Homo sapiens: one gene and its partners. The protein of the gene in region 3 purifies or fractionates together with the protein of the main gene of each other region. This does not show direct contact. Each region holds a gene or a part of one and is shown on either strand. Other genes may lie near its edges.

Evidence for each region.
Region 1: the proteins of ASXL2 (region 3) and MCTS1 purify together in Homo sapiens (affinity purification with mass spectrometry, with the first as the bait; one study listed by BioGRID). This does not show direct contact.
Region 2: the proteins of ASXL2 (region 3) and KRT2 purify together in Homo sapiens (affinity purification with mass spectrometry, with the first as the bait; one study listed by BioGRID). This does not show direct contact.
Region 4: the proteins of ASXL2 (region 3) and SEPTIN7 purify together in Homo sapiens (affinity purification with mass spectrometry, with the first as the bait; one study listed by BioGRID). This does not show direct contact.
Region 5: the proteins of ASXL2 (region 3) and PSMC3IP purify together in Homo sapiens (affinity purification with mass spectrometry, with the first as the bait; one study listed by BioGRID). This does not show direct contact.
Region 6: the proteins of ASXL2 (region 3) and AHCY purify together in Homo sapiens (affinity purification with mass spectrometry, with the first as the bait; one study listed by BioGRID). This does not show direct contact.
Region 7: the proteins of ASXL2 (region 3) and HPRT1 purify together in Homo sapiens (affinity purification with mass spectrometry, with the first as the bait; one study listed by BioGRID). This does not show direct contact.

Annotation. Positions count from the first base shown.
Region 1 is NC_000023.11:120,609,952-120,614,419, reverse strand, and holds part of MCTS1 (malignant T-cell-amplified sequence 1), read right to left. Parts: intron 3,410-4,468; coding exon 3,342-3,409; intron 2,238-3,341; coding exon 2,156-2,237; 3' UTR 1-2,155. UniProt on the Homo sapiens protein: Translation regulator forming a complex with DENR to promote translation reinitiation.
Region 2 is NC_000012.12:52,643,164-52,646,708, forward strand, and holds the end of KRT2 (keratin, type II cytoskeletal 2 epidermal), read right to left. Parts: intron 2,407-3,545; coding exon 2,372-2,406; intron 2,272-2,371; coding exon 1,856-2,271; 3' UTR 1,395-1,855; downstream 1-1,394.
Region 3 is NC_000002.12:25,745,020-25,749,487, forward strand, and holds part of ASXL2 (putative Polycomb group protein ASXL2), read right to left. Parts: intron 1-4,468.
Region 4 is NC_000007.14:35,803,664-35,808,131, reverse strand, and holds part of SEPTIN7 (septin-7), read right to left. Parts: intron 1-4,468.
Region 5 is NC_000017.11:42,574,503-42,579,754, forward strand, and holds the start of PSMC3IP (homologous-pairing protein 2 homolog), read right to left. Parts: upstream 3,228-5,252; 5' UTR 3,185-3,227; coding exon 3,151-3,184; exon of another isoform or gene 3,060-3,150; coding exon 2,959-3,059; intron 2,801-2,958; coding exon 2,711-2,800; exon of another isoform or gene 2,578-2,710; intron 1-2,577. UniProt on the Homo sapiens protein: Plays an important role in meiotic recombination. Stimulates DMC1-mediated strand exchange required for pairing homologous chromosomes during meiosis.
Region 6 is NC_000020.11:34,296,359-34,300,826, forward strand, and holds part of AHCY (adenosylhomocysteinase), read right to left. Parts: intron 1-4,468. UniProt on the Homo sapiens protein: Catalyzes the hydrolysis of S-adenosyl-L-homocysteine to form adenosine and homocysteine. Binds copper ions.
Region 7 is NC_000023.11:134,466,149-134,470,616, reverse strand, and holds part of HPRT1 (hypoxanthine-guanine phosphoribosyltransferase), read right to left. Parts: intron 1-4,468. UniProt on the Homo sapiens protein: Converts guanine to guanosine monophosphate, and hypoxanthine to inosine monophosphate. Transfers the 5-phosphoribosyl group from 5-phosphoribosylpyrophosphate onto the purine.

The DNA of each region.
Region 1 (4,468 bases), on a different chromosome or scaffold from region 3:
AGATTTTGGCAGAGATAAGCATTCTAATTAATGATGAAGCAGGAAAAATTCTCCAAGTCTTACCTCAGCACAACTGAAATATTACCCCAATTTATCAATCTTCCTTTGCTCATACCTGTGTTTACCAAGTAACTTCCTGTTTCCTAATTGTTTACCATAGGCAGACCTATCACTATGAATTAATACATTTATATTCTAACTGGGGAATCTCCAAGTCTCTCAAGTTTCATCAGTGGGAAATGGTTTCTCAAGCTGAGGGTCAGACCCTGGATCTATGTCCACCTATGTTACATCCTGGGAGACCCAGCTGGAACAGCCAGCCAAATGATCTCTCTCTTTTTGCTATCCACCCTCACCTTTCTCACCAACTTCTAACTGTAACACAGGTCACCACAATCTTGTATATGTCTGTATCCATCTGAAAAATAAAATCACATGTCATATATTGGTAAACAACCAAATGAAGATGGCTAAGACACTAGAATAACAGCAAGGTTATTAGGAAGAAAAATGGTCTTTATCAATAAATAAATCCACAACTGCTCTTTTAACTCCCCAAACAGATTACTGTTCTTACTAAAGCAGGTCCATGTCCCTCATATTCCACTTATAGAAGATATACATTATTTAAGGAGTCTAGTGGGGACCCAAATCCAGATGTTCTGGGCATCTGTTTGGTATGACTTTACTCAAAAGAAGGCACTAAAAAAACTGAACCTGAATCTGATCAATCTTATTTGTTTACAGGATATACAGGAGGCATAAAAACAAGTTAATGACTTCACAGTGATACAATCAACAAAATCCAGAATATGTGTGGAAACTTTAAAGACAAAACAACTAGATTTCTTAAATAATTTAAGGGGGAAAAGAAAAGGTAACTTATAAATTAAACAGACTTCAATAAATAACAACCAAATGCAATGTATGAACCTTGTGTGGTACCTATTTCAAGCAAACCAACAGTTAAAGAGAATTAACAGTCTAGACAGTTGATCATATTAAGAAACAGTTCAACTTTTTAGGTGTGATAATGGTATTGTGGGGTTTTTCTAATTTTTAAAGATACACACTAAAGTAGTTATGACGCCAGGCATGGTGACTCATGCCTATAATCCCAGCACTTTGGGAGGCTGATCACTTGAGGCCAGGAGTTCAAGACCAGCCTGGCCAACTATAAAATATATAAAAATTAGCTGGGCACGGTGGCTCATGCCTGTAATCCCAGCACTTTGGGAGGCAGAGGGGGACGGATCACTTGAGGCCAAGAGTTCAAGACCAGTCTGGCCAACATAGCGAAACCCCATCTCTACCAAAAATACAAAATTAGCCGGGCATGGTGGCACGTGCCTGTAATCCCAGCTACTCAGGAGGCTGAGGCACAAGAATCGCTTGAACCCGGGAGGTGGAGGTTACAGTGAGCCAAGATCGTACCACTGCACTCCAGCCTGGGCAACAGAGCAAGACCCTGTTTCAAAAAAAAAAAAAAAAGAATAAAGTAGTTATGGATGAAATGATAGGATGTCTGGGATTTGCTTCAAAATAATTGGGGGGTGGGGAGAAATAATTGAGGTATAGATGAAATAAGACTGACCATAAACTGAAACTGGGTGATGGATATGGAGAGGTCCATTATACTATTCTCCAGACTTCTTAATATGTTTAGAATTTTCCATTGAAGTTTTTTTTAAAAAAACAATCAACAAAACACACACACACACACACACACACATACACACACACACACACACACACACACGAGAATGAGCACTGCTGGGTCCCCTGGAGTAATAGAATAAAATTCCTAGTCTAGTTTCTAGCCCCATTTAACTAGACAGTTTCTCTAGAGGTCTACCATAAAATGGCAATCCATTGACCAAGTCCTGCTCTTCACTCTTATATCATTAGCCTAAGAAAGGACATTAGTTGTATGAGTTTGCTTACTTACCAGATACCTTTTAATGTCCAAGTTTGCTACCCAATTTTAACTTGAGTTTAAGAAAACTTAAAATAATTTCTGAAGCTAACAGAATTTTAGCATCTGGTGAATTTATTCAGCATAACCACAGGCATTATCTTCATGCTGTCACACACAGACACAAACACAGATACAGCACAATATCCATATTTAGCCCAAGTGCATTCCTTCTGAGGCTCATTTATATGTCTTCATATGCCACAGCCCATCATTTAAATAATGGATATTTTCAATGCCAATTCCTTTGTTGACTTTCTCACTGTAGAAGGAAAAAAAACACATAAACATACTTTTATGCATTTTTATAGTCTTACTCGTGATAAATATAATTCAAAGTATATTGTTATTTTTTAATTATTAAGCCACAAGTAAAGAACTTATTGACATCACAATTACATTGTTGTTTATATTAAACTACATTACTCTGTGGCAGCTCATATCTAAAAGTGATTTTAGTGATCTAACTAGTGGGTCTATAGAACCAGAGTAACAATGTCACAAGACTAGGGGAATATCAAAGTGCTACATTAACCCTGAAACAAAATTAATACCACTAATTTGGTCATCAAATGGGTTCTAAAATTTTTAAATATACTGCCTATGTTTTGATAATATATCTTTACTAGTTCTCTAAATATTCTACATTTCTTGTATTACCAGGTCAGGATATAAGATACTGTGTGGTGGTGAGATATATCACTGTTTTTAAAACTAGCAGTAATGACCAGGTGCAGTGGCTCACACCTGTAATCCCAACACTTTGGGAGGCCGAGGTGGGTGGATCACTTGAGGTCAGGAGTTCGAGACTGGCCTGGCCAACATGGTGAAACCCCATCTCTACTAAAAATACAAAAATTAGCTGGACATTATGGCGCACACCTGTAATCCCAACTACTTGGAAGGCTGAGGCACAAGAATCGCTTGAACCTGGGAGGCAGAGGTTGCAGTGAGGCGGGATCGCGCCACTGCACTCCAGCCTGGGCAACAGAGTGAGACTCCATCTCAAAAAAACTTAAAAAAATAAAAATAAAAATAAATAAAATGAAGCTAGCAGTAAAACATCTTCCCTCCTCCCCCAATTTAAATGATACTAAATAAGATTCCTAAAGTACCACGTACACACATATAAAACAGCTGTGTTGGCACATGGGTTCTTTTCAGTGCTTAAGAAAGACTACAATCCTGAAGACAAAATAGGTTTCATTGGCTTCCTAAGTGTTAGGAAATATCAGAAATGAAGCTTCTGTGCTTGGATATTTGTGTAATGTGGTATGCATGATAGCAAATTTCACCTGTAATTCTGATGCTTCCTGGGTTGGTTACCCATATATCAAAAGTTAAGGGGGCCTAAAGTAAGACTTACATGTCTTCTGCAGACATCTTCATGACTCCAACACATAGAGCATGCTGTTTTCCTTCTGCCATGATAGCCTGAAAGAACACAGCTAAGAAAACTATTTATCAAAATGCCTTGGGGCCTCCCCATCAAGGGAAGGGTGTCAAATAATGATCATGTTACTAGTTAAGCCACTTGGAACCCCTCTTGTGTCTTCTCCTAGACCATTAACTCCTTGAGAGCAGAGACCTAGCAGAGTCTGTGGGTACACTGTAAATACTCAGTAAATGCTAAATGAATAAATCTAATAACCCCTTTTCTTTCAAGTCAAATGTTAATACTATAACCCCATGCTAACAAAACCAGAATAAGTCACACAAAAAAGGAGTAAAATTTCTTGCACATAAATACTAAAAACTGTGAAATCAATAAATATTAATTGTTCTGATTAATTATTCTGATCACTGACTAGTGGGGATTTTTGTTTGTTCTTGAGACAGAGTCTCACTCTGTTGCCCAGGCTGGAGTGCAATGGCGCAGTCTTGGCTCATTGCAACCTCTGCCTCCCGGGTTCAAGCAATTCTCCTGCCTCAGCCTCCCGAGTAGCTGGTGCTACAGGCGTGTGCCACCACACCCAGCTAATTTTTGTATTTTTAGTAGAGATGGGATTTCACCATGTTGGCCAGGCTGGTCTTGAACTCCTGACCTCATGATCCGCCTGCCTCAGCCTCCCAAAGTGGTGGCATTATAGGCGTGAGCCACCATAGCCGGCCGTTTGTTTTTTTGAGATGGAGTCTTGCTTTGTCACCCGGCTGGAGTGCAGTGGCATGATCTCAGCTCACTGCAACTTCTGCCTCCTGAGTTCAAGCAATTCTCCTGCCTCAACCTCCCTAGTAGATGGGATTACAGGCGCATGCCACCCCACCCAGCTAATTTTTGTATTTTTAGTACAGACAGGGTTTCGTCATGTTGGCCAGGCTTGTCTCGAACTCCTGACCTCAGGTGATCTGCCCGCCTCAGCCTCCTAAAGTGCTGGGATTACAGGCATGAGCCACCACACCCGGCCTGAATGGTGGTTTTATGTAAAGGCTGTTTTAAAATAATAGGTAAATTCCCAGTCTATCTTTAAGAGCCTGATATAACAGTTTCAACCT
Region 2 (3,545 bases), on a different chromosome or scaffold from region 3:
TGGGAGTGGGAGACCTGGTTTCTGTGTCCACCCTGGGCCTTACCTTTTTCCTCACCTAAGTGAAAAGTTCAAATACACTGATTACCAAAGCTCCTGTCCAGCCTCAAATGTCTGGGACCAAGTCCCTGTTAAAGGTTGTGTTCATGTCTACACTATGTACATACCCGAAAACAGCCAGCTCCTCACACCACTTCTTCCCAACCTGCACCCTCTCCCCACAGACCTCTCCCCACGACTGAGGCCTGGGTGGTTCTCAGGGACCTTCTCTGATCAGCGGATCACTTTAGAATGCTCAGCCTGGAGTCTTGCCACCTTGCCACCTGCAGCCTTCAGAGCTGTTCCTGCAGCACCCTCATACCTGGGTCCTGGCTGGTCTGGAGGCAAGTGAATGCATCTGTTCTCTATTAGAGCCGTCCCTGCAACCTCTGGGAACAGGAAGACGGTCACAGACTCAACTAAGGACTCTCCAAGGTTTTAAAGCTGGGGTGGAGTGGGAGAAAAAAGGACCCTCCAGGAGTGGTTCTGAGTGGCTTTAAGCCACAGCTACTATAACCAAACGCCACATACAGAAAGCTAAGCTGACCTAGCCTGAGCCACCAACTCCCATTTGGGCAACTCTGGCCTGTCTAACACCAACCCCAAGCATGCCCAATCCCACCTGCCCAACCATTCCTGAACTCCCTGGAAGCCCTGCTCAGGTGACATGGCCTTCCTGAGGAAGGGGCTGAAGGCATCTTCACACCCACAGGAGAAGGCCAACCTGATGGCAACATCCATGCGACAGGCCCCGGGGGCTGCGGTGAGAGAGGAGAGAAGGGCTTGTTTGCTGAGTGTGGTGGGACTCCGCTGACAGGAGGGGTGTCCTGTGAAAATAGAAGTGGCTGTTTTGGAGGCCACTTTAGAGTCCTCCAGACTCTTCCCAGGTATCCTCCTCCAGGCTTGCTCAGAGCCCCCGCAGAGACAGAGGCCAGGACCTACATCAGGCTGAGGAAGGTCTGCCTTGGAAGCTCGGAGCTTGGAAACTCACCACGATGGTGCCAGGGGCTCAGCGGTTTTGCCCTGAGGAGAAGTGATCCCGGGCCAAAGCCTTTGTGGAAAAGGGAGAGGGCAGTCTGTGGGAAATGCTCAGGAAGAATGGGTTTTTCTAGAAAAGAGACTCTTCCACAAATCTACCTGTCCACCTCCCGGCAATGCCATGGCCCTCAAGTCTGGTAAATACTTTCTGAGAACCACACACCCATCCCCAGGCTCCCATTCATCCAGAGGCTGGCGCCTGGGCTTCCCTCAGGGAGGCACGCTCCTCACCCAGGAGCCCCTCCTTAATGCCCAAACCTCCCTTGTCCATGGCTGCCCACTTCCACCAAGGTTTGACATCACGCAGACAGCACATGATATGAATTGCAAATGAGGTTTATTATGAAGACCCCCAGACCACAGCACTTCCGAAAGCAGAGTGGACAAGAGGAGCTATATACACAGAAACACATTTCCCCCCAGCACTGCCAGGCTTAGAGATGAAATCCCTGGATGGGCCTGGGTCCTCAACAGAATACACATCTGGAAAATGGGCAATGCAAAGAGGCATGGTGGGGGCGGGAATGGGCATGGCTAGAAGCACAAACCTAGACAGCACAGATTCCGCCCCAGAACACAGAGGCGTCACTGGCTCTAACTAACTGGTTTGGAGAGAAGATCTTTCAAAAACTGTATGTGGACATTCTTTTCCCTCAAAGTGCCATCAGAGATAAATGACAAAAATTTAACTTGCTGCCAGTTAGAGGTACAGAGACAGGCTTCTACATTCTGGAGTGGGAGAGTCTGGGTTGGGAGAGTCGGTGGTGGTGGGGGCTCATCTTTATCTAAAAGAGAAGGTCACGCTGGAACCAAAAGCTTCACCTGAGCTACCCTTTACAGAGCTAGAACCCCCACCTCCAGAGCCATATCCTCCTCCAGAGCTGGAGCCTCCTCTAGAGCCACCTCCAGAGCTGTGTTTTCCACCTCCAGAGCCATATCCTCCTCCAGAGATGGACCCTCCCTTAGAGCCACCACCAGATCCGTATCTTCCTCCAGAACCACCGCCAGAGCCATATCCTCCTCCAGAGATAGAACCTCCTCCTCCACTACCGCCTCTGGAGCCAGACTGTCGGCCTCCAGAGCCATAACTGCTGCTTCCAGAGCTGTATCCTCCTCCGGAACTGGACCCTCTACCTCCAGAACCTCCAAAGGCAGCCTTGGATGCCACATTTGATGAAATGGTGCTGCTTGTCACAGCTGCAGAGAGAGGTGGTGTTACCACAGAGATTATGACTGCCTCTCCCTGCCTCCACCTGACACAACACCCCATGGAACAGGACCACACCCCATTACTTACACACAGTCACATTGCTGCTGAGGTCTCCAGACATCCTGTAAGGGAGAGAGAAAAAACAAGTTGTGGTGGAACACTTAGGTTCTGTATGCATGTTGTTTTACCACTTCCACCCGCAAATGTGCAGTTTAGCCTCTCTAAGCAGCCACCAGGGCTTACACACCCCACTTTCTTCTATGCTGCCAGGTCACACAATGACGACAGACCCCCTTCCATTTATGCACAACCTTGCATGTCAATCCCTCTCAATTTTTGCTCTGATAAAAAATGAACAGTTGCGTGGTTGATCCAAGGTCACTGAAAAGCAAATTCACTTCCTACTTTGCAACCCATTTGTGTATTTAAATCCATCTTGGAGAGTCTGTTATTCAGAATCCATGCCACATCAGAAATTATACAATGAGGCTGCCTGTGAACATTCAGTTCAGAAAGAACTGTGACTCTGTAGAGCCTCCCCATTCCTCTCTTCTTCCCACCCTCTTCAGCTTCAACTGAAAACTTTCCCACTTCCTCTTACAAGCTGGGCATAGGAGGCATTGCCTCTAGACAGGGACAGAGCAACCTCCTGAAGAAAGCCACTCCCTGTTTGTCATGCTGGCTTGCTGATGGCCTGGGGTAGCTTTTCCCCTTCCAATTGCTTCAGCCAGATTAAGTCACCCAAGATGCTGATAATACGGACAAAGGTCTCAGACTACAGAGGAAGCAAAGGGTGCCTCTTTGAAAGTTAGCAAATGGTTCCATTTGTCACTCCAGAAACCTGCAAAGAACTGGGGCTGGCACCTGCTCCGGTCAGCACGTCCCCACCAGTCAGCACATTCCGAGACATCATCTCCCCCATTCTGGGTCACCCGGTGGAGGGCACAGAAGCCACTCACCCTATGGACCTAGAGACCAAAGTTTCAGACTGTCTAGGACTAACCTGTTTTCCCATGATTTTGTTTTCTCTTTCAGAAAAGACCAGGATGTTTAACTTACTGCTTAGTTTAATTTAATGTGCCTTATGCATCATTTCATGTTGATAAATGTGTAACTCTCCAATCATGCTTTATGTCCTGAGTTTCTGCTTGGGGAACACAGAGAATGTCAGTTCTCAGTTGTCAGGAGGGCCTGCCCCATTCTCTGCTTTCCCTGTCTTTGCCTCCAGCCCTGGCTCTGGGAGAGATGAGAGGAAGGGCCA
Region 3 (4,468 bases):
GCACTGGAAGGAAGACAATGTGTGATCTATAGGAGCCCCCACCATGCCCATACACATAAAGGAGTATGTACATAATGTTTGCCAGCCATTCTCATCTCTGGCTGGTATTATATTTACTTGCGCAATTTTAAAATATATATGCTCTGGGTCCTATCCCAAAAAATTACAAATCAGAACCCCCAAGACCCTAGGAAGTCTTTTTTTTTTTTTTTAGATAGGGTCTTGCTCTGTCTCCCAGGCTGGAGTGTAGTGGTGTGATCTCGGCTCACTGCAACCTCAGTCTCCTGGGTTCAAGTGATTCTTGTGCGTCTGCCACCCGAGTAGCTGGGATTACAGGTGTGGGTCACCACGTCTGGCTAACTTTTGTATTTTTAGTAGAGATGGGGTTTCACCATGTTGGCTAGGCTAGTCTTGAACTCCTGACCTCTTGTGATATACCTGCCTCGGCCTCCCAAAGTGCTGGGATTACAGGCATGAGCCACAGCACCCAGCCTGAAAAAGCCTGGCCAACACAGTGACTCCAGAGGGAGCCTCCAGCTCAAAAAAAAAAAAAAAAAAAGTTTCTAAAAAGCTACTTGTGAGATTCTGATGTCTATCAGGTTTGAAACCATTGATTTCCTTCTTTTTTTTTTTTTTTTTTTTTTGAGACAGTCTCACTCTGTCACCCAGGCTGGAGTGCAGTGGCAGAATCTCAGCTCACTGTAACCTCTGCCTCCTGGGTTCAAGTGATTCTTGTGGCTCAGCCTCCCGAGTAGCTGGGATTACAGGTGCCTGCCACCACACCCAGCTAATTTTTTTGTATTTTTAGTAAAGATGGGGTTTCACCATGTTGGCCAGGATGGTCTCGAACTCCTGACTTCAAGTGATCCACCCACCTCGGCCTCCCAAAGTGCTGGGATTACAGGCGTGAGCCACCACGCCTGGCTGAAACCAATGATTTTCATACCATAAAATCATCATGTCTGAAACAAATCTGCCTTCTGTCCTGAACAATACTTTGAAAGCTATTAGAGTTACTAATAATTCAACAAGATGTGGACTCTTCTAGTAACTGGTTGAGTTTAAAGGAGCAAATAACTGTTAAGATGTTCTAAAGCATTTAATTAAAAAAAAATTAACCCACTAAACCCTAAGAAAATGCATGCCATTTTTCTTAATGTTTTTAAATTAAGAATAATAAAGTCACTAAACATTTTTCATTATTTGCAATACTCATTTCTCAAAAGGTCAGTAGTCCTCAAAAACTGATTCTCTAATTCCGAAGTTAGAGCCATGGGACTTCATAACAGGTGTCACAGAGTATATATTTTACATCAGGAAACCTATTTAATCTCTCTAAGAGCTAAATCTATTTCACATCCAATTCGAACAAGCCTAGATAGTATATTTACTCATCACATAGCATTTTAGAGGCTGCCTACAGTAAGAAAGAAGCAGTTATTGTCCCTTATTTATATCATATGAAAGAAACTGCAGGGGAAAAAATGAAAAAAAAAAAAAAGATAAAACTAAAAAAGTAAATACAAGAAAGGTGTTTAGGGGAATTTATATAGGGACAAACAACTTTACATAAGAATACTCGTGAGAGTAACTCTATACCTAACATAATACATCATATCTATCATAATAACACAATCATTAATAACATGTTGAAATCAAATAAGAACAACCATTATAAGTGGTTAAAATGAAAGGTTTCGATACCTAAAAATAAGTTTCAGTTACTTACGTAAATAGCCCTATTACCTGATTATGCAAAATAAATCATATTTCTTTTTAAGTACAAAACCAAAGCTGTCCAGGCATTGATAACAATTTAATTTACTGAGAAGCCCTACCCCGGGAGAGCAGAGAGATTCAATCCTTTTCTTTTTAAGTGTACAGTCATCCCTTGGTATCCATGGGGGATTGGTTCTAGGACCCCAGAGGATATCAAAATCTGAGGATGCTCAAGTCCTTTATATAAAATGGCGTAGTATTTGCAGATAACCTCCACATATCTTCCCATATATTTTAAGTCATCTCTAGATTATTTATAACACCTAACATAATGTAAATGCTATATAAATTGTTATACTGTATTTTTACATTTGTATTTAATTTTCTTTTCCAAATATTGCGATAGGTGGTTGGTTGAAAATACTGCATTAACCTTGAGGATGTGGAACTTGCTGATACAGAGGGCTGACTGTATAGGGAATGTAAAACATATAATGTGCATGTGTGTATATATAGTTTTTATATACATTTGTATATATATAAAAGTTGTAACTAAGTTATAACATTTATACTACATTGTGAATTTTGTTTTCTACTACTACATTGTGAATTTTGTTTTCTACTTAAATTTTGTTTAAAAGGTTTTGTTCTGTTATAAATTACATTAAACTTTGTCTAAGAAAGCAGTATTTGAGATAGGGTCTAAGAGAAGAGAGTTACTAAAGACACTTCTGGAGAAGTCTTTTTTGAGGGAGATGAGGGAGAAGAAAGGAAAAGAACTGAAAAAAGTAAAATTATATTAACTTGGTCACAGTGGATTAAAGTTTCTGTGTAATCCCTTTGGACTAGCAGAAAGCAGACAGAATATGATGTAACCCAGCCTGTTTACAGGTGAGAAAATAGAAATGATGGGTCTTAGCAACATTTATAGCAAAACCTAAACAGTTACTCAGCTCTCAGGTCTGGAGATAAGCTGTGAATGACATTGAAGAAAAGTTTCTAATATTTTTATAAGAAAGAATAGTAAAAGTGATTATAATAAAAATCAGAATCTCTGGCGATGCATGTTAATGGTAGAAAAAAAAATAAGAAAAAACCCCCATAGATTCGTAAGTGCTAAAATCACCAATTTTAAAGAGCAATGAATTGGCCAGGCGTGGTGGCTCACACCTATAACCCTAGCACTTTGGGAGGCCGAGGCAGGTGGATCTTGAAGTCAGGAGTTCAAGACCAGCCTGGCCAACACGGTGAGACCCCTTTACAAATAATTATTTGTAAACATACAAAAATTAGCCAGGCGTCGTGGCTTAATGCCTATAATCCTAGCTACTTGGGAGGCTGAGACAGGAGAATCCCTTGAATCCGGGAGGTGGAGGCTGCAGTGAGCCAAGATTGCATCACTGCATTCCAGCCTGGACGACAGTGCAAGACTCCATCTTGGGGGGCAAAAAACAAGCAATGAATAAAAAAGTAATAGGAAGTACAGACGGTGGCCCACGCCTGTAATCCCAGCACTTTGGGAGGCAGAGGAGGGCAGATGACTTGAGGTCAGGAGTTTGGGACCAGCCTGGCCAACATGGTGAAACCCCATCTCTACTAAAAAATAAAATTACAAAAATTAGCCAGGTATGGTGGTGCATGCCTGTAATCCCAGCTACTCAGGAGGCTGAGGCAGGAGAATCGCTTGAACCTGGGAGGTGGAGACTGCAGTGAGCCAAGATTGTGCCACTGCACTCCAGCCTGGACAACAGAACGAGACTCCGTTAAAAAAAAAAAAAATACAATGAGAATGGGTCAAGTTCTGGTAAGTGAATCTTTCCAAGGAATACTTCCTGACAGAACTAATTTTGGTTCACCTCAGTTAAATAAAAAGGGGGAAAAAGTACTTTTACTAGTCTTATTTTTCCATTTATATCCTAATGAGTAATATTCAGTGCGTTGCCTCTTAAATTCCTTGGTAAGAAAAATAAACACTATTTATTAAATGAATGAACTGCAAGCTGATATTAAGCACAAGCCCAAGTATTAATAAACCTTTAAGATCAGAAGTAAAAATGTGTTTGGGTTTTAAAAGGCATTGTATATTAAGACAGTCAAAGATACTACCTAGAAGAATTTGAAAGATTTGACATGCAGCAATACAAGGCTAACTGGAAGTTAATCACATGCTAAGCAGCAGAGCTTACCAAGACTATTCCATGTTACTAGTGTCCCTCAAGTAACCAGTAGTGACAGAAGACAGCTACACATATTTCCTTTAATAGGAGGGAGCTAAAGGTAGTTCCTGATTCACAGAACATCAAGTCAGTTATGGTAGCAAGAAAAGGGTAAACTCAAATACCATGGCTCTTGGTACAAAGATAGGATCCTTTGATTACACCAATAGTCTCCTCATGCTTAGTCTCACATTTCTTATTTTGTCAATAATTTTCATGATGGTCTGGAAGCATGCATTACAGACTACCTGTAGGGGAACCGAAGGAAGCCCAAGACTCTTCCACCCTGGGATTGTGATCAACTCTTCTCTGCAATATCTGCGTGAACCCTGGCCCAAAAAATCTAAGAGGTCCTGAGGAGACAGTAGGACAGTTGGCTGTCAATGTTCTACAGAGGCTGAGAATTATAACTAAGTTTTTGGAAGTCCATTTAAATTATATTTGGTCTAAGAGTCTGAGATCAGGTGCCTCTGAGCTCAAGTAGTGAGCACAGGGGTGGTTTACATTAGATGCCCAGGTACCTTCCTTATGCA
Region 4 (4,468 bases), on a different chromosome or scaffold from region 3:
CAACAAAAAAAACCAGGCTGGGTGCGGTGGCTTGCACCTGTAATCCCAGCACTTTAGGAAGCCAAGGCAGGCAGATCACGAGGTCAGGAGAGACCAGCCTGACCAACATGGTGAAACCCCGTCTCTACTAAAAATACAAAAATTAGCTAGGCGTGGTGGCATGTGCCTGTAATCCCAGCTACTTAGGAGGCTGAGGAAGGAGAATCACTTGAACCCAGGAGGCAGAGGTTGCAGTGAGCCACGATCATGCCACTAGCCTGGGTGACAGAGCAAGACTCCGTCTCAAAAAAACAAAACAACAACAAAAAACCTCCCAATAAAATTTTTAAAAAGCAACCAGGTGCGGTGGCTCACACCTGTAATCCCATCACTTTGGGAGGCCAAGGCAGGTGGATCACCTGAGGTCGAGAGTTCGAGACCAGCCTGACCAATGTGGAGAAACCCTGTCTCTACTAAAAATACAAAAATTGGCAGGGCACAGTGGCTCACGCCTGTAATCCCAGCACTTTGGGAGGCCAAGACGGGCGGATCATGAGGTCAGCAGATTGAGACCATCCTGGCTAACACAGTGAAACCCCGTCTCTACTAAAAATACAAAAATTAGCCGGGCGCGGTGGCGGGCGCCTGTAGTCCCAGCTATTCAGGAGGCTGAGGCAGGAGAATGGTGTGAACCCGGGAGGCAGACCTTCTTACAGCGAGCCGAGATCGCGCCACTGCACTCCAGCCTGGGCGACACAGAGAGACTCCATCTAAAAAAAAAAAAAAAAAAAAAAAAAAAAATTCAGCCGGGCATGGTGGCACATGCCTGTAATCCCAGCTACTCGGGAGGCTGAGGCAGGAGAATCACTTGAACCGGGGAGGCGGAGGCTGCGGTGGCTGAGACTGTGCCATTGCACTCCAGCCTGGGCAACAAGAGCGAAACTCCGTTTCAAAAAAAAAAAAAAAGTTTTAAAAAAGCAATTTCAGAAATGAAAACAGAAACATCATAACATCCATGACCACAGCTTTCTTGATTGCTATGGTGTCAAAGTGTCTGATACTTCCTGGAGTCAAATACTTGTTAAATCAATGAACAAAGTTTACAAAAGTTTCAAATTACCACTGCAGGAATATTTCAAATATATTTTATAAAGCACAGCAAAACTGGTGGAAAATAGTTTTGATTTTCCTGAAAACAGTCAATCAGAGCCAAAGATTTTCAGGGCCCCATCCCAGGCCTATCATTTATCAAAGTGTGAAACACTATGAGAATCTGTATTCTTTGAAAAACACCATGACGTTCATTTTATTTGAAATCTTATATAATAAAGAAGTTATAGGGATGGGGAGACTTTAGAAAGTTACCCAGAAAAAACACTTTAAATGAGTCAACTAACAAAAACAAAAAAACTAATTCATGGCTATTAGAAATCTTATCAGTGGTTACCTGGGGCAGTAGAAGGAGAACTCCAACAGGGCACAAGAAACTCTGGGATGGTGGAAGTATTCTCTATCTTGATTAGAATAAAGGCTACAAGATGTGTGTATGCACATCAGCAATTCATTGAACTAAATACTTAAAATCCACGTATTTTTTTCTATGAAAGCATACAATAATGAAGTTACTTGATAAGTCGGAAAGCATTTGGAAATGTAGACTCCTGGGTCCCTCTCCCAGAGATTGCTAATCAATGGGTCTTGTAGTGGGAACCAGTTAATCTGCATTTTTAACTCCAAGCCATGGTTGACCCTTCAACCATACTTTAGAAAATAATGACCTAGCATAATGTTCTATGTCCAGTAATTACTGATCATGCTTTGCAAAAATATATCAATTAATGATAAACTTTTAATACAAAAAAATCTAGGTAATTTTGATTCCCAAGTTTAGGAAATACTAAGAATATTAAGTGGTAGGAGTTCCAGGAAGAAGTAAAAAGTAAGACAGTTAAGGAAGCTTGTTCCTTCTTCCCCGTCTCCCACAATCCTTCAATGGCTCTCCATCACCTAGTGCAGTGGTTCTCAACCAAGGATGATTCTGCTCCCCCACGTGACATTTGGCAATGTCTGTAGACATTTTTTTCATTTCACAACCAGAGAGAGCATGTGCTGCTGGCATCTTAGCACGATGACAGCAGGGATGCTGGTAAATACTGTACAATGCTCAAGACAGCCCTCCCCTCCCTCAAATAATTACAAAACCTCAAATGAGAAACTCTGACCTGGAGCCTCACCTCCAATAAAGCTACCAGAAGTAGTCAGTTGTGTCCCAGAGTTAAACAAAACAACAGAATTAAGATGTTACAACTTCAGGAAAGTCCATTTTTACTTCCAGATCAGTGGGGAAGGAGGAAGAATATCATCTTTATATTTCACATAAAGCAAACAAACATTGAATAAAATGCAAATGACACATGAATACTTAAGACTTAGAAAACTTCAAAATAACGTAAGCAGGAGCAGCTTCAGGCTATCCCCCCAATCACAGGGGATACTTAATTCTCAGCTTTCAAAGTATAGTATTTTTAAAGTTAACACTGGCCTAAAACATAATACTGTACATAAACTTTAGCATGACAGTCTGTTGCTGCAGCATAGTTTAACCTAGTGCTATGCAAAGTGTGGTCTGTGGACCAATGAGCCAGTCTGTGAATTATCAGTTTATGTCAGAGAAACACAAATTGAGAGCACAAAAATGGAAAATTTAATAGCAGAATAATTTTATGTCTATTGAAACTAATAATAAAAAATTGGGGCTTATAGTTTATCTTTCTTATTCCATTTCCACTTTTTTTATTTGCAGTATAGTCATGCAGTATGTCCAACGTTTGGTCAACAATGGACATTTATGACAGTAGTCCCATAAGATTACTATGGAGCTAAAAAAATTCATATCACCTGTGATGTCATAGCAGTCACAAGTTCATAGTACAGCACATCATCTTTTCTATGCTTAGAAGCACAAACACTTGGCCGGGCGTGATGGCTCACATCTATAATCCCAGCACTTTGGGAGGCCGAGGCAGGAGGATCACTTGAGGTCAGGAGTTCCAGACCAGCCTGGCCAACATGGTGAAACCCCGTCTCTACTAAAAATACAAAAATTAGCTGGGCGTGGTGGCGAGTGCCTGTAACCCCAGCTACTTGGGAGGCTGAGGCAGGCAAGCACCTGTAATCCCAGCTACTCGCGAGGCTGAGACAGGAGAACTGCTTGAACCCAGGAGGCAGACAGAGGTTGCGGTGAGCCAAGATTGCACCATTGCACTCCAGCATGGGCAGCAAGAGCGAAATTACGTCTCAAAAAAAAAAAAAAAAAACAAAAAAAGAAACACGCTTACCATTTGTCATAATTGTTTACAGTAGTCAGTACAATAACAAGCTATACAAGCTCATAGCCTAGAAGCAATAGGATATAGCCCAGGTGTATAGTAGGCTCTACCATCTAGGTTTGTGTAGGTAAAATACTCTATGATTTCTCAATGTACCGTATTGTTAACAACGCCTAACTGTAGTTTTTAAAATTACAATCTAACCTACTCTGACTGGTGTATCTATTGAGTAGCAAAGCCAAGATTTGCATCCATATCTAACATCAAAGCCCATGTTCTAAATCATTATTAAGATTTTGAACTCAAACCCCAATGTGTAATCCCTACATCTGGATAGCTGGACTGCACCAAGTGTAAGTCACAAGGATTTAGTGTGTGTCTGGTCTACGGCCTTCAACACTTAATGCCAGCCAAGCTGCCTCTTTGGCCCCTCTTCCCCAAGCCCATGCTCAAAGCTTAGTCTCCAGATCTCTGATGATGCAAAAGGACACAGGAAGACAAAAACAAAGAAAAGATTCATCCTCAAGGCCTAAAGCAGAGTCACCGAATGCTACCCTTTTCTTTTGGAAGCCACCCTGGTTTCTGGCTATGGGGGATAACATCCTCTCAAATAGGAGTAGGCCTCAGATCTCTCTAACCATGCGAGCTACATGGAGTACAGGATAAATGAATCCAAAGTAAGAAAAAGCCACACGGACTTAACAGTCTTTAATTTTAAAGTCTTCCTTCCTCACACCAAGACCTCCAACCCCTAACATAAGGTTCGAAGACCTTAGATTTGACTCATCCATACTGTACATTTTGACCACAATCCTTAAAAAAAATTACTTCCCCACCTAGTACACAATACCTGAAAGAAAATTTAATCTCCCTCAAAATATTAAGTGCAATGTCCACTAATGGGTCACAACCTGCAGTCTTCAAAACACTGCTGTAGAGTTCAATGGTCTACATTTAACAGTATGCTCTCATATAGCGAACTAAACCCATAATCAAACTACCTTACAATTCTGCTCCTTAAAAACATAATTTTTCTTCAGTTTCTATTGTATAATAAAGTTTATCTTTACAGTCCAAACTTAGTACAAAAAAAGAAGTATACAAAAAGTTTTGTCTCAAAACTTAGTAAAAGACATAAATCATTAGTTTAAAATGTTCAA
Region 5 (5,252 bases), on a different chromosome or scaffold from region 3:
CCTGGGCTGAAGCAGTTAAGTAACATTGTTCCCACGGTGGGGAAACCTAGATCATGGGTTTCCATAATAGATAGAAACTGGACAGGTGAAGAAGCATGATGGATGGGATGGATGGACTTCTTTTCTTCTTCCTTCCTGTCCTTTCTTCCCATCCTTCTTTCCACCTTCCTCTCTCCCTCCTTCCTTCCTTCCTTTTTCCTCCCTCCCTCCCTCCTTCCCCCTCCCTTTCCCTCTCTCTTTCTCTCTCTTTCTCCCTCCCTTCCCTCTTTTCCTCTCTTTCTTTCTCTGTCACCCAGGCCAGAGTGCAGTGGTGCAATCTTGGCTGACTGCAACCTCCGCCTCCTGGCTTCAAGCGATTCTCATGCCTCAGCCTCCTAAGTAGCTGGGATTACAGGCGCGCACCACCAAGCGCAGCTAATTTTTGTATTTTTAGTAGAGAAGGGGTTTCACCACGTTGCCCAGGCTGGTCTCAAACTCCTGGGCTCAAGTGATCCATCCGCCTCAGCCTCCCAAAGTGCTGGGATTACATGCATGAGCCACTATGCTGGGTCTTGGGATCCATGTAGATAAGGGATTCCAGTAAGTCTGAGGAGCTTCTCTCATGAGGGGCCATTGCTAGAAAAGAACTGCACTGGGGATCAGTGTGGGGGTGGGGGAGGTCACATCAGTTGGTGATGGGGAGCAGGTTGAAAAAGTATGCCAGCCAGTGCAGTCTGGACTCTACACTTGGGCAAGGTGAACCTATAGGGCAGAGGCCAGCAAACTATGGCCAGCAAGCCAAATCCTGCCAGATGCATGTTTTTGAAAACAAAATTTTATTGAAACAGCCCCACCCGTTCATTTACATAGTCTACAGCTGCTTCTGTTCTACAGTGGCAGAGGTGAGTAGTTGTGGCAGTTGTACAGCCAGCCATGACAAGAGATACATATGGCCCACAAATCCTAAAAATACTGTCTGGCCATTTGCAGAAAAAGTTTGCCAAACCCTCCTTTAGAGAATTATCTTTAGATGAGTAACACAATGCAGCCTGTTTTAGGAAAGTCAGCCTTAAAAGTGGTTTGGTTCAGTTTAACGAGTAATATCTGCTGGATGTTAGATACTGCGGAGGTGCTGATCAGATAAAAATGAATTGAGAAATGGGGTCTGCCCTAGAGGAACTTCAGTTGAATAAAGGAGACAAGTAAAAATTGTAATACAGCATGCCTCAAAAGAGGTAAGGGCCAGGCTGGGCACAGTGGCTCATGCCTGTAATCCCAGCACTTTGGGAGGCCGAGGCGGGTGGATCACGAGGTCAGGAGATCAAGACCATCCTGGCTAACACGATGAAACCCCATCTCTACTAAAAATACCAAAAAAAAAAAAAAAAAAAAATTAGGCTTCGTGGCGGGTGCCTGTAGTCCCAGCTACTCTGGGAGGCTGAGGCGGGGGAATGGCGTGAACCCAGGAGGTGGAGCTTATAGTGAGCCGAGATTGTGCCACTGCACTCCAGCCTGGGTGACAGAGCGAGACTCCGTCTCAACAACAACAACAACAACAATAACAAAAAGAGATAAGGGCCTGAAAAAGAAACAATTAGCTCGGAGCATTCAAGGAAGATTTCTGGAAAAGGTGATGTCTAAGTGAAATCCTCAAGGAAAGAAAGAGCTGGCCAGGAAGAGAAGCAGGTACAGGGAAGACAACATGCAAAGGACAGAGCAGTAAAACACACCAGAATTATCTAGTGTTCGTGGATAGAAAAATAATGAGGATTGGTGAGGCCAGAGGCTGGCTGGGGCGTCTTCCGGTGCCTTTTACATGTTTTTTGCAGCACTAGAGAGCCATTGAAGAGTTTTAAATAGGGAAGGTGCATGACCAGATCTATTTAGACAGATCATTCTGACTGCAATGTTTAAGAGTTTAAGATATGTTTGAAGAGCCAAGATCTGTTAGGAGGATACTGCAACAAATAAAGAGGGCGTGAACTAGAGCAACCATGGCAGATGGAAAGGAGAGTGGATTCAAGAATGGAAAAATTAGCCAGGCTCTGTGGTTCACGCCTGTCCTCCCAGCACTTTGGGAGGCCAAGACAGGAGGATCACTTGAGCCCAGGAGTTGGGACCAACCTGGGCAGCACAGTAAGACCCATCTCTATAAAAATTAAAAAAATAAATAAAAACGGAAAAATCAGCTGGACTTGATGGTTGACTAGTAAAGGAAGTCAAGAATTGCTCCCAATTTCTGGTTTGGGTGAAGAGTAATTCCATTAGGGGAGGAGAATGTTAGAAAGAAACCAGTCCGGGGTGGGGGGAAGATGAGGCATTCTACTGTGGCAATTTTGACTCTGATATTAATGCCTGACAGATTCCAGCTGGAGGTCTGGGCTGGAGAATATAAATTTGATATGTGTGTTTAGAGAATCGGATGGAGGCAGGAGGAACATCATTTGGCAGAGGGTGTTGCTAATGTAGATGATAAGGAATAAGAGCTTTGGAGCGGAAATGGATCTTGGTAGCAACAATACAGAATCTTCTGTCATCCATCATATTGTAAATCTGGAAACCTCGTGAAGTTGGGATCCTAACAAGAGGAGTACACACCTTGATTTAAGGATGGTGGCCTAAGACAGGTGAGTTTTCCATGGGGGGCCTTGTCCCCAAAGAGTTCACACCAGGAGTAGATTCACCCGTTGTCGGGCTCTCATGGGTGACAATCGGCGCAAGTTCTCCTCACCTGATCCGCAAAATAGATCTTCTGCTTGCCGTACATCTTCTCTTTGATCTTGCCTTGTTGCGCCAGCTGCTCCAGCGTCTTCACCACCACCTGGCAGAGGAGAGAGAAGGAGCAATCAGAGGAGTCTGAGCCTGGGTCTGGGGAAATCCAGCCAGTGATGTGGAAAACGCCCAAGGCTCCAAAGGGCACGACCCCAGCCTGAATCCAGGGAGTCCGACGGAGAGGGAATCCCGGGAGAAGGTCCTCACCGCCTTGCCCAGTCCGTGTTCCCGCTGTAGGTTCCCGAACACATCCTGGGAGCTGTAGGGCCGGTTCTGCTCCTGCAGGTACCTCAGGAGGATCCCGGCGGCTACGGAGAGAAAGGCAGGGGAGGGGGCCACTCAACCGACCTCCTCACCCACTGCCCTCCCGGGTCTTCCCCGCGCCCACGGCGCCGTTACCTCCCGCCGCAGCTTCTGCCCGGCCTTTACTCATCGCCTTTCCCGCCACCCAACTCAGAAAGCCGGACGTTGTAGTTGCTCGGGGCGACGGCTCCTTCCGGCGACGGGGGCGGGCCTCGAACGGTGATTGGCTGAAGGGGAAGCCTTCCGGAGGAGCAAAGCGACCCCTCCCGGACTCCATAGTTCATTTCAGGTCGGAACTTGCGCATTCGGGCCGGACCTCAAGCCATGGGCCTCTGCGAAGGCGCCGGCGTGCCCACGGCTAAGAAACTTCCTCTTTCTGCTCCCGGGAACGAAGGCTGTAGCAGAGAAGGCCTTCAAGTTTCGAGACCCAGTTCCAGCCGCAGCTGAGCACTGGTGACCTTGAATTAAGTCTAATGTTGGGATTGGAAGACGCTTCAGACATCCGCTGCCGCCCTGGGCAAGCGACCAGCTCAAGGTTACCCCACAGGGACGTGCTCTGGTCCCACGGTCCAGTGCTCTTTTGTCGGTTAGTTTTGTCATTTGTAAAATAGGAACAGTAGATAGTGGTAGGAAAGTGGTTGTGAAAACTTAATAGAAAGCTAAGCGCCTTGGTCGGGCGCAGTGGCATGTCACCCCTGCAATTCTATCACTTTGGGAGGCTGAGGCGGGCGGATCGTTTGAGCCCAGGAATTCGAAACCAGTCTGGGCAATATGAAACCCCATCTCTGCAAATAAAGTACAAAAAATTAAGAGTGGTGGCGCGCTTCTGTGGTCCCAGCTACTCTGGAGGCTGAGGTGGGAGGGTCACCAGAGCCCCGGACATCGAGGCTGCAGTGAGCCACTATGAGCGCGCCACTGCACCCCATCCTGGCGACAGAGCGAGACGCAGTCTCGAACAAAAAAAAAAAAAGTGGGAAGGGGGGACAGCTAAGCGCCTTGGAGAGCAACCACCCTTATTTGCCTAATACCGAGCTTCGCACCCAGGGGGCACTCGACACCTACTGTAGTTTGGACGCCAAGGAACGATAGGGTTAGGAGGGGGCTACTGTTCAACCACAAAGCTTGTGGAAAAGTTTGTTAGCCCAGACAATCTCAGGGCAACACCTGGCAGGTGCTTTCCACCCCTGACCACAGTGGCCAATGGGACAGAGCCTGAAATAAATATTTCTAGTTTCTGAGGTGAGCTGAAGGCCAAAGAGCAGCTGTCCCTGCAGCTCAGACCATCCAGTGAAGGAGTAAGGTGCTACTTTTTAAAGCCTTCTGCTACCTACAACCTCCTTAGCCTTTAAAACGTGTGCTTGTCTCTGCACGTTTAGGAGACAATATTAAGAATTAGAAATGAAAGGGCCGAGCGCGGTGGCTCACGCCTGCAATCCCAGCACTTTGGGAGGCCAGGGCGGGCGGATCACGAGGTCAGGAGATCGAGACCATCCTGGCTAACACTGTGAAACCCCATCTCTACTAAAAATACAAAAAATTAGCCAGGCGTGCTGGTGGGCGCCTGTAGTCCAAGCTACTCAGGAGGCTGAGGCAGGAGAATGGCGTGAACCCGGGAGGCGGAGCTTGCAGTGAGAGATCGCACCACTGCACTCCAGCCTGGGCGACAGACCAAGACTCCGTCTCAGGAAAAAAAAAGAAATTAGAAATGAAGGAAATACAGGCTAAATACTAGCCAAGAGTGCCAGTTATACTGATGGTGGGGCTCTCACAAGAAGGAAAGTAGCCTCATACTATGGTGATGTTCTGGCCATCACGAAGTAAAAATAGGGGTGGGCTGGTGGGTCCCTCATACCTGGGCTTCCTCTTTTAAGGCTATCACTTCAAATTAATCAGAACTCAGATTTACAAGAGAAGACCTATCAAGGGTAGGACACCATTCAGCATCAGTCTCTTAAAGATTGTTCTCATACAAGATTTATTCCCCAGCACACCCCTCCCCTCCTCAGTTCACAGTGGAGACTATGGAGATTCAGGGCAGGATCCCTCAGGTACAAGAAACACCTTCCGAAGATTTTGCTCTCCTTCCTTCCCTCCCTCTTGCCAACTCCCAAGGCCTGAAGCGCACACTCATGCAAACACACGAAATCCCCCTCCTTCCCCACACCTCCTGTCTTTCCACATCAGAGCTCTGAACTTGA
Region 6 (4,468 bases), on a different chromosome or scaffold from region 3:
GCAGGATCATTTGGATTTCATATTAATCTATATCCTCTGGCTTTGAGGTTATTAGTAATAAAAGGTAATATTTCAGGTGTTGCCACCTAAAATACTAATCTACATCCTCTGGCTTCATGGTTACTAGTAACAAAAAGTATTTCAGGTGCTATCTGCCACCTAAAATGTCTCGAATTTGTTCAAATTCTCAGGCAGGAAAGAAGGATATTATTATGAGCTAACTCACTATCTCAATACTCTCCCCTACCACACTGGTCCACTTCCAAGGTCATACCCTAGGTCAGTCCCTAGGTCAAAGTTTGCAGACTTCCCCGGTAAGGGATGTTCCTCTGGCATGCTTGTAAATCTCCCCTGGAAAATATGATTCAGCAGGTCTAAGACTCCTGGTGATTTTTATCTTTAGGGAAGCTGAGATCCTGCCAAACACCCAAAGAGGTAGGCGGTGGGAGGCAAAGGACTCTGTAGAGAATTTAATAATCTAAGAATTTAATAATCAATAAAATTGTCTGTCAGTCAGCTTCCTACAGTGCATTTTAACAATTTCAGAGATGAAACACGCCTCCCGCATGAGAGACCACTCCGGCTGTGCCTCAACTCAAGCCACCCACCCCAGCCCTCCTACCCTAGTAGGCCATCACCAGTGATAGCTCTCCTTGGAAATCTGGACTTCAAGCACCCAACTCTAGCCACGCCTCATCTTTCTGGTTTTCTCCTTCCAGAGGCCAAGCTCCAACAAGGCTGTGGCCTGTCAGGTGAGAACCTCTATTCAATTCATCCTACCAATTTCTAGTGTCCCTTCTACCCCCTTTCCCTTTGAGAACTCACTTGGCAAAACTCTCAGCCCAATTAAACCCGACCCTCCACTGCACCGGACCCACTGAACCCAGCAGGAGGACAATCACAACCCCACCAAGACATCATATTTAATTAATTAATTAATTAATTATTTTAGAGACATAGTCTGGCTCTGTAGACCAGGCTGGGGTGCAGTGGCGCGATCTCGGCCCACTGCAACCTCCACCTCTCAGGTCCCGGTTCAAGCAATTCTCCTGCCTCAGCCTCCCCAATAGCTGGGATTACAGGAACTCGCCACCATGCCCAGCTAATTTTTGTATTTTTAGAGGAGACGGGGTTTCACCATGTTGGCCAGGCTGATCTTGAACTCCTGGCCTCGTGATCCACCTGCTTCAGCCTCCCAAAGTGCTGGGATTACAGGTGTGAGCCACCACACCTGGCCAAGATATCATATTTATTAAGACCATAAAAGACACATAGCACATTGCAGCAATCCTATGACATTTTCCTAGTAAATTTACTCCCATTTTCTACTCTCCTCAACCCTCCAACACCTTTCCCCATTGAATGACAATCTCACTTCCCAATTCACTGAGATGAATTCAGAACCAGGCCACTTTTCCCCTATGGAATCCACTAGTCACCTATAGCAGTCATCTACAGCTTCAGACCAGGCACTCTTTCCTGTTACCACAGATGAGTTGAATGGGCGCGGTGGCTCACACCTGTAATCCCAACACTTTGGGAGGCCAAGGTGGGCAGATCACTTGAGGTCAGGAGTTCAAGACCAGCCTGACCAACATGGTGAAACCCCGTCTCTACTAAAAATACAAAAATTAGCCGGGTGTGGTGGTGGGTGCCTGTAATCCCAGCTACTCAGGAGGCTGAGGCAGGAGAATCACTTGAACCTGGGAGGCAGAGGCTGCAATGAGCTGAGATCATGCCACTGCACTCCAGCCTGGGTGACAGAGTGAGACTCGGTCTCAAAAAAATAAAATAAAATAGATGAGCTGTCCTGTGGGCGGCAAGCCACCCAGGCACCGAGGCAAGAGACAGAGGACACGAGCTGTTCCAGTATAATAAAATATAAAACAAGAATAGTTATACTAGATATAGATCTTATATATGATTATATATGAATATCATTAATCATTAGTTTGTAGCAATTACTTTTTATTCCAATATTATGATAATCCTTGCTCTATAATCATAGCCTAGGAAAAACCAGGCCATACAGAGATAGGAGCTGAGGGGACATAGTGAGGTGTGACCAGAAGACAAGAGTGCGAGCCTTCTGTTATGCCCGGACAGGGCCACCAGAGGGCTCCTTGGTCTAGCGGTGACGCCAGCGTCTGGGAAGACGCCCGTTACCAGGCGGATCGTGGTCCAGCGGTAGCAAAAGGTGTCAAGGAACAACACCCGCTACTTAGCAGACTGGGAAGTGGCGGCGGCGGGAGGGGGGGGGGTGTCTCCCTTTCCCCAGGGGAGTTTAGAAAAGACTCTGCTCCTCCACCTCTTGTAGAGGGCCTGACATCAGCCAGGCTCGCCCACAGTTATCCAGAGGCCTAACCATCTCCCTGTGATGCTGTGCTTCAGTGGTCACACTCCTAGTCTGCCTTCATGTTCCATCCTGTACACCTGGCTATGCCTTCTAGATAGCAGTAGTAAATTAGTAAAAATACTAATAGTCCCTGATATGCAGAAATAATTGCGTAAGCTGTCTTTCTCTCTGTCTCCTCTCCCTCCCTGCCTCGGCTGCCAGGCAGGGAAGGGCCCCCTGTCCAGTGGACACGTGACCCACATGACCTTACCTATCCTTGGAGGTGACTCACATTCTTTACCCTGCCCCTTCTGCCTTATATGCAATAAATAACAGCGCAGCCCAACATTCGGGGCCACTACCGGTCTCCGCGCATTGATGGTAGTGGTCCCCCGGGCCCAGCTGCCTTTTCTCTTGTCTCTTTGTCTTGTATCTTTATTTCTACACTCTCTCGTCGCCGCACACAGGGAGAGACCCACCGACCCTATGGGGCTGGTCACTACACTATCCCTGCTCCATGGGGCCTGATTCCATATCCCCTCTCCTCCTTAAGGACTTCCATACTCCACTAAAACTGCTCTTCCGTCCAAAGACCAGCCTGATCTCCATACCTGATGCAAAATTACCTAAGACCATGTTTCTACCAGCAGCACAGATTGCATGAATGACTTGCCCTCCTTCCTGAAACCCTTTCTTTACTTGGCTTCTGTGACTGTCCTGTGCTTTTCCACCTACCTTCCTGGTTCCTCTTTAGCTAACAGACTTTAGGGTTTGGGGGCCCTCAGGGCTCCATCATCTCCCAGTTCTCTTATGTTTACCAATTAAGCTCATCCAGTCTTATGGCTTTACATACCTTCTCTACGGGGATGACTCCCACGTATTTATATCCAGCCCAAACTACTCCCCTGAACTTGAGACTCGATGTGATCCAACTGCCTCCACAGCACCTCCACTTGGATGTCCAGTTGGATCTATTATGTGTCATGTTGGAGTCCTCATGGCTCCTTTGCCCCCACTACCGGTTACTCTCCCAATCTTCCCATTTTAGGAAATGAAACCACCATTCAACCAGCTACTCTGCCCAAAAACTTAAGATTTGATTCCTCTTTTCCTCTTTCACCTCAATCAGCACGTTTTTGGCTCAACAAGTGAAATATATAAGCAATCCAACTGCATCTCACCACCTTCATCTAAACTGTCACTTCTCAGGCTGGGCGCGGTGGCTCACAGCCTGTAATCCCAGCACTTTGGGAGGCCAAGGTGGGCGGATCACCCGAGGTCAGAAGTTCGAGAGCAGCCTGGCCAACATGGTGAAATCCCATCTCTACTAAAAATACAAAAATTAGTTGGGCGTGGTGGTGGGCACTTATAATCCCACCTACTCAGGAGGCTGAGGCAGGAGAATTGCTTGAACCTGGGAGGCGGAGGTGGCAGTGAGCTAAAATAGCACCACTGCACTCCAACCTGGGTGAGAGGGAGACTCTGTCTCCAAAAAAAACAATAAAGAAATAAATACACTGCCACTTCTCAGTTGGACACTGCCACACTCTCTTCACTGGTCCCATGCTCTAACATGCCATTCTCCCCACAGCAGCCAGAAGAGGGAGGCTCTTAAAAATTTAAGTTACATCACCTCCATCATTCTACTAAAGTAAACAAAACTAAACAAGCAAACCCTCCAATGGCTTCCCTCAATCTTCGGGCCCTATCTGCATGACTGCCTGCCCCTCCTCCATCTCTCCACTTTCCCCACTCACTAGCTGTTCAACACACAGGCTTCCTGACTGACTTCAGGCAAGCTCCACTCATTTCCACCTCAGGGCTTTAACCCAAGCAGTTCTCGGCCTGGAAGGCTCCTCTCAAGCACCTAATACAGTACCTGGCACACAGTAGGTGCTGAAAAAAACCTGGAAACAGGAAAGAACCTAGTATATCCCTGCTAGAGGAACCAAGAGTGCACCAGGGTGACTCAAATAGAGGCATAAGATGAGTTGGGACTTCAGTCCCAGTGAAGTGGGGAACCTACAGTTTTCAGGGGCCAGCATTCAGAGACCAGATTTGTCTTTTGAAAAGACCCCATTGGCTGCTGTGTGGATCTGCGGAGCAAGAGATCCAGGGAGACCTGCAAGGAGA
Region 7 (4,468 bases), on a different chromosome or scaffold from region 3:
CATTCAAGAAGCTGATGATTTAAGCTTTGGCGGTTTCCAATAAATATTGGTCAAACCATAATTAAATCTCAATATATCAGTTAGTACCTATTGAGCATCTCCTTTTACAACCTAAGCATTGTATTAGGTGCTTAAATACAAGCAGCTTGACTTTTAATACATTTAAAAATACATATTTAAGACTTAAAATCTTATTTATGGAATTCAGTTATATTTTGAGGTTTCCAGTGCTGAGAAATTTGAGGTTTGTGCTGTCTTTCAGTCCCCAAAGCTCAGTTCTGAGTTCTCAGACTTTGGTGGAACTTCATGTATTGTCAGGTTGGCCCGTAATACCTGTGGGACAACTTCAGCCCCTGTGCACATGGCCAGGAGGCTGGTTGCAAACATTTTCAGGTAGGTGGACCAGGACATGCCCCTGGTCATGGCCAGGTGGAGGCATAGTGCTATACAGCAGGCAGAAGTCAATATTGATTTGTTTTTAAAGAAACATGTACTACTTTCATAAGCAGAAAAAATTTCTATTCTTGGGGGAAAAGATTATGCCAGATCCTCTAGGATTAAATGCTGATGCATCTGCTAAACCTTCACATATCAGAACATATTTACTATAGAAAGAATGAAAATGGGACATTTGTGTGTCACCTATGTGAACATTCCAAAAATATTTTACAACAACTAAGTATTTTATAAATTTTATGAACTGAAATTTAGTTCAAGTTCTAGGAAAATACAAACCTTGCTAGATATTATAAAAATGATACAATATATATTCATTTCAGGCTCATCAGAATATATCTGTTATCACTTGACAAGAATGAAAATGCACCATTTTGTAGTGCTTTAAAATCAGGAAGATCCAGAGTACTAAAAATGACTTCTTCCTTGAAGCTTACTCACCAACTTCCTCCCAGTTACTCACTGCTTCTGCCACAAGCATAAACTAGGACCCAGCCAGAACTCCTTGAAATATACACTTGCAACGATTACTGCATCTATCAAAATGGTTCAGTGCCTGGCTACAGGTTCTGCAGATCGACTAAGAATTTGAAAAGTCTTGTTTATTTCAAAGGAAGCCCATGTGAATTCTGCCCAGAGTTCATCCCAGATATGCAGTCTAAGAATACAGACAGATCAGCAGAGATGTATTCTAAAACAGGAATTCTGGCAATATAACAAATTGATTTCCAATCAAAACAGATTTACATACCATACTTATGTCAAGAAGTTGTTTTGTTTTATTGCATCCTAGATTTTATTTTTTTGATTTATGGTTTACTTTAAGCATAAAAAATTTGTCAATACAACTCTTCCCAAAAGGCATAAACAAAAATTCATAAAACTTGCATCACTTGAGATACTTCAGGTATGAATTCACAACTTTGTTACAACTTACTATATATATGCACACATATATATATATTTGGGTATATTGGGGGGGTTCTAATTTAAGAAATGCATAATTGGCTATAGACAGACAGTTGTCAGAACTTGGCAATGGGTACGTGCAGGTTCATTATACCAAGTCTACTTGTAGTTGTTCAAAATGTATCATAATACAAGGCCGGGCGAGGTGGCTCACGCCTGTAATCCCAGCATTTTGGGAGGCTAAGGCAGGAGGATTGCTTGAGGTCAGGAGTTTGTGACCAGCCTGGGCAACAGAGCAAGACCCTGTCTCCAAAAAGAAAAAAAATAATTTTTTACAAAATAAAAACAAAATGTATCATCAGACGAAATTAAATAAGAGGCAATTCATTTAAATGACAACTTTTCCCAGCTTGACATTTAACAAAAAGTCTAAGTCCTCTTAATTCATATTTAATGATCAAATATCAAATACTAATTTTTTTTTTTTTTTTTTTTTTGAGACGGAGTCTCGCTCTGTCGCCCAGGCTGGAGTGCAGTGGCGCGATCCTGGCTCACTGCAAGCTCCGCCTCCCGGGTTCACGCCATTCTCCTGCCTCAGCCTCCCGAGTAGCTGGGATTACAGACATGCGCCACCACGCCCGGCTAATTTTGTATTTTTAGTAGAGATGGGGTTTCTCCATGTTGGTCAGGCTGGTCTTGAATTTCCCACCTCAGGTGATCTGCCTGCCTCAGCCTCACAAAGCAGTAGCTGGGACTACAGGCACCCACCACCACACTTGGTTAATTCTTTTGTATTTTTTTTGTAAAGACGGGATTTCACCATGTTAGCCAGGATGGTCTCGATCTCCTGATCTCATGATCCGCCCGCCTCAGCCTCCCAAAGTGCTGGGATTACAGGCGTGAGCCACCCCGCCCGGCCATCAAATACTAATTCTTAAATGGTAAGGACCCACTATTCAGAACCTGTATCCTTATCACTAATATGCAAATATTTATTGAATACTTACTATGTCATGCATACTAGAGAGAGTTAGATAAATTTGATACAGCTACCCTCACAGAACTTACAGTGTAATAGATGGCATGACATGTACATGAGTAACTGTGAACAGTGTTAAATTGCTATTTAAAAAAAAAGACGGCTGGGCGCTGTGGCTCATGCCTGTAATCCCAGCACTTTGGGAGGCCAAGGCAAGTTGATCGCTCGAGGTCAAGAGTTCGAGACCAGCCTGGCCAACGTGGTAAAACCCCGTCTCTACTAAAAATACAAAAAAAAAATTAGCCAGGCATGGTGGCACAGGCCTGTAATCCCAGCTACTAGGGAGGCTGAGACATGGAGAACTGCTTGAATCCAGGAGGCAGAGGTTACAGTGAGCCGAGATCATACCACTACACTCCAGCCTGAGTGACAGAGCGAGACTCCGTCTAAAAAAAAAAAAAAAAAAAAAGATACAGGTTAAGTGTTATGGTAGTTGAAGAGAGAACTCAAACTCTGTCTCAGAAGCCTCACTTGCATGTGGACCACTGATATGAAATAATATAAATAGGTATAATTCAATAAATAGGAACTTCAGTTTTAATCATCCCAAACACCAAAACTTCCTATCAAACAGGTCCAATAAACTCAATCTCTATAAGAGCTAGACAGAAATCTACTTGGTGGCCTATAATCTTATTAGCCCTTACTTGTCCCATCTGATATTAATTAACCCCATCTAATATGGATTAGTTAACAATCCAGTGGCTGCTTTGACAGGAACAGTTGGAGAGAGTTGGGGATTGCAACATATTCAATTATACAAAAATGCATTCAGCATCTACCTTGATTAAGGCAGTGTGCAACAGAATTTGCAGGAGAGTAAAAGAATGATTATAAATTTACAACCCTTAAAGAGCTTATAGCTGGGCGTGGTGGCTCATGCCTGTAAATCCCAGCACTTTGGGAGGCTGAGGCGGGTGGATCACCTGAGGCCAGAAGTTCAAGACCAGCCTAGCCAACATGGCGAAACCCTGTCTCTACAAAAAATACAAAAATTAGCCGGGTGTGGTGGCACGTGCCTGTAGTCCCAGTTACTTGGGAGGCCGAGGCAGGAGAATCGCTTGAACCTAGGAGGTGGAGGCTGCAGTGAGCCGAGATTGTGCCACTGCACTCCACTTCAGCCTGGGCGACAAGAGCAAGACTCCGTCACAAAAAAAAAAAAAAAAAAAAAGCTTAAAATCTAGTGGGAAAGGCATATATACATACAACTAACTGTATAGCATAATAAAGCTCATAATCTGTAACAAAATCTAATTCGACAAGCCCAGAAACTTGTGATTTACCAAAAACAGTTATATATACACAAAAAGTAAACCTAGAACCCAAAGTTACCCAGCACCAATGATTCTCTCCCTAAGCAGTATCAAGTTTAAAGCAGTGATTACATTCTACTGCCTAGATTGTAAACTGAGTAAAGGAGACCAGCACCTTTCTGCTACTGAACTAGCACAGCCGTGTAAACCAACAAGGCAATGGCAGTGCCCAACTTTCTGTATGAATATAAGTTACATCTGTTTTATTATTTGTGACTTGGTGTTGCATGTGGTTATTATCAACACCTTCTGAAAGAACAACTACCTGCTCAGGCTGCCATAACAAAATACCACAGACTGAGTGACTTAACAGAAACTTATTTCTCACAGTTTTGGAGGCTGGGAAGTCCAAAATTAAGGTACCTGCAAGGTAGGTTTCAATCTCAGGCCTCTTCTTTGGCTTGAAGGTCTTCTAACTGTGTGCTCACATGACCTCTTCTAACAAGCTCTCTGGTGTCTCTTTTTTTTTTTTTTTCTTTTTTGAGACAGAGTCTCACTCTGTCACCCAGGCTGGAGTACAGTGGCACAATCTGGGCTCACTGCAACCTCCAACTCCCGGGTTCAAGTGATTCTCATGCCTCACCCTCCCGAGTAGCTTGGATGACAGGAGCCCGCTACCACACCCAGCTAATTTTTGTATTTTTAGTAGAGATGGTGTTTCACTACATTGGCCAGGCTGGTCTCAAACTCCTGACCTCGTGATCCACCCACCTTGGCCTCCCAAAGTGCTGGGATTACAGGTGTGAGCCAC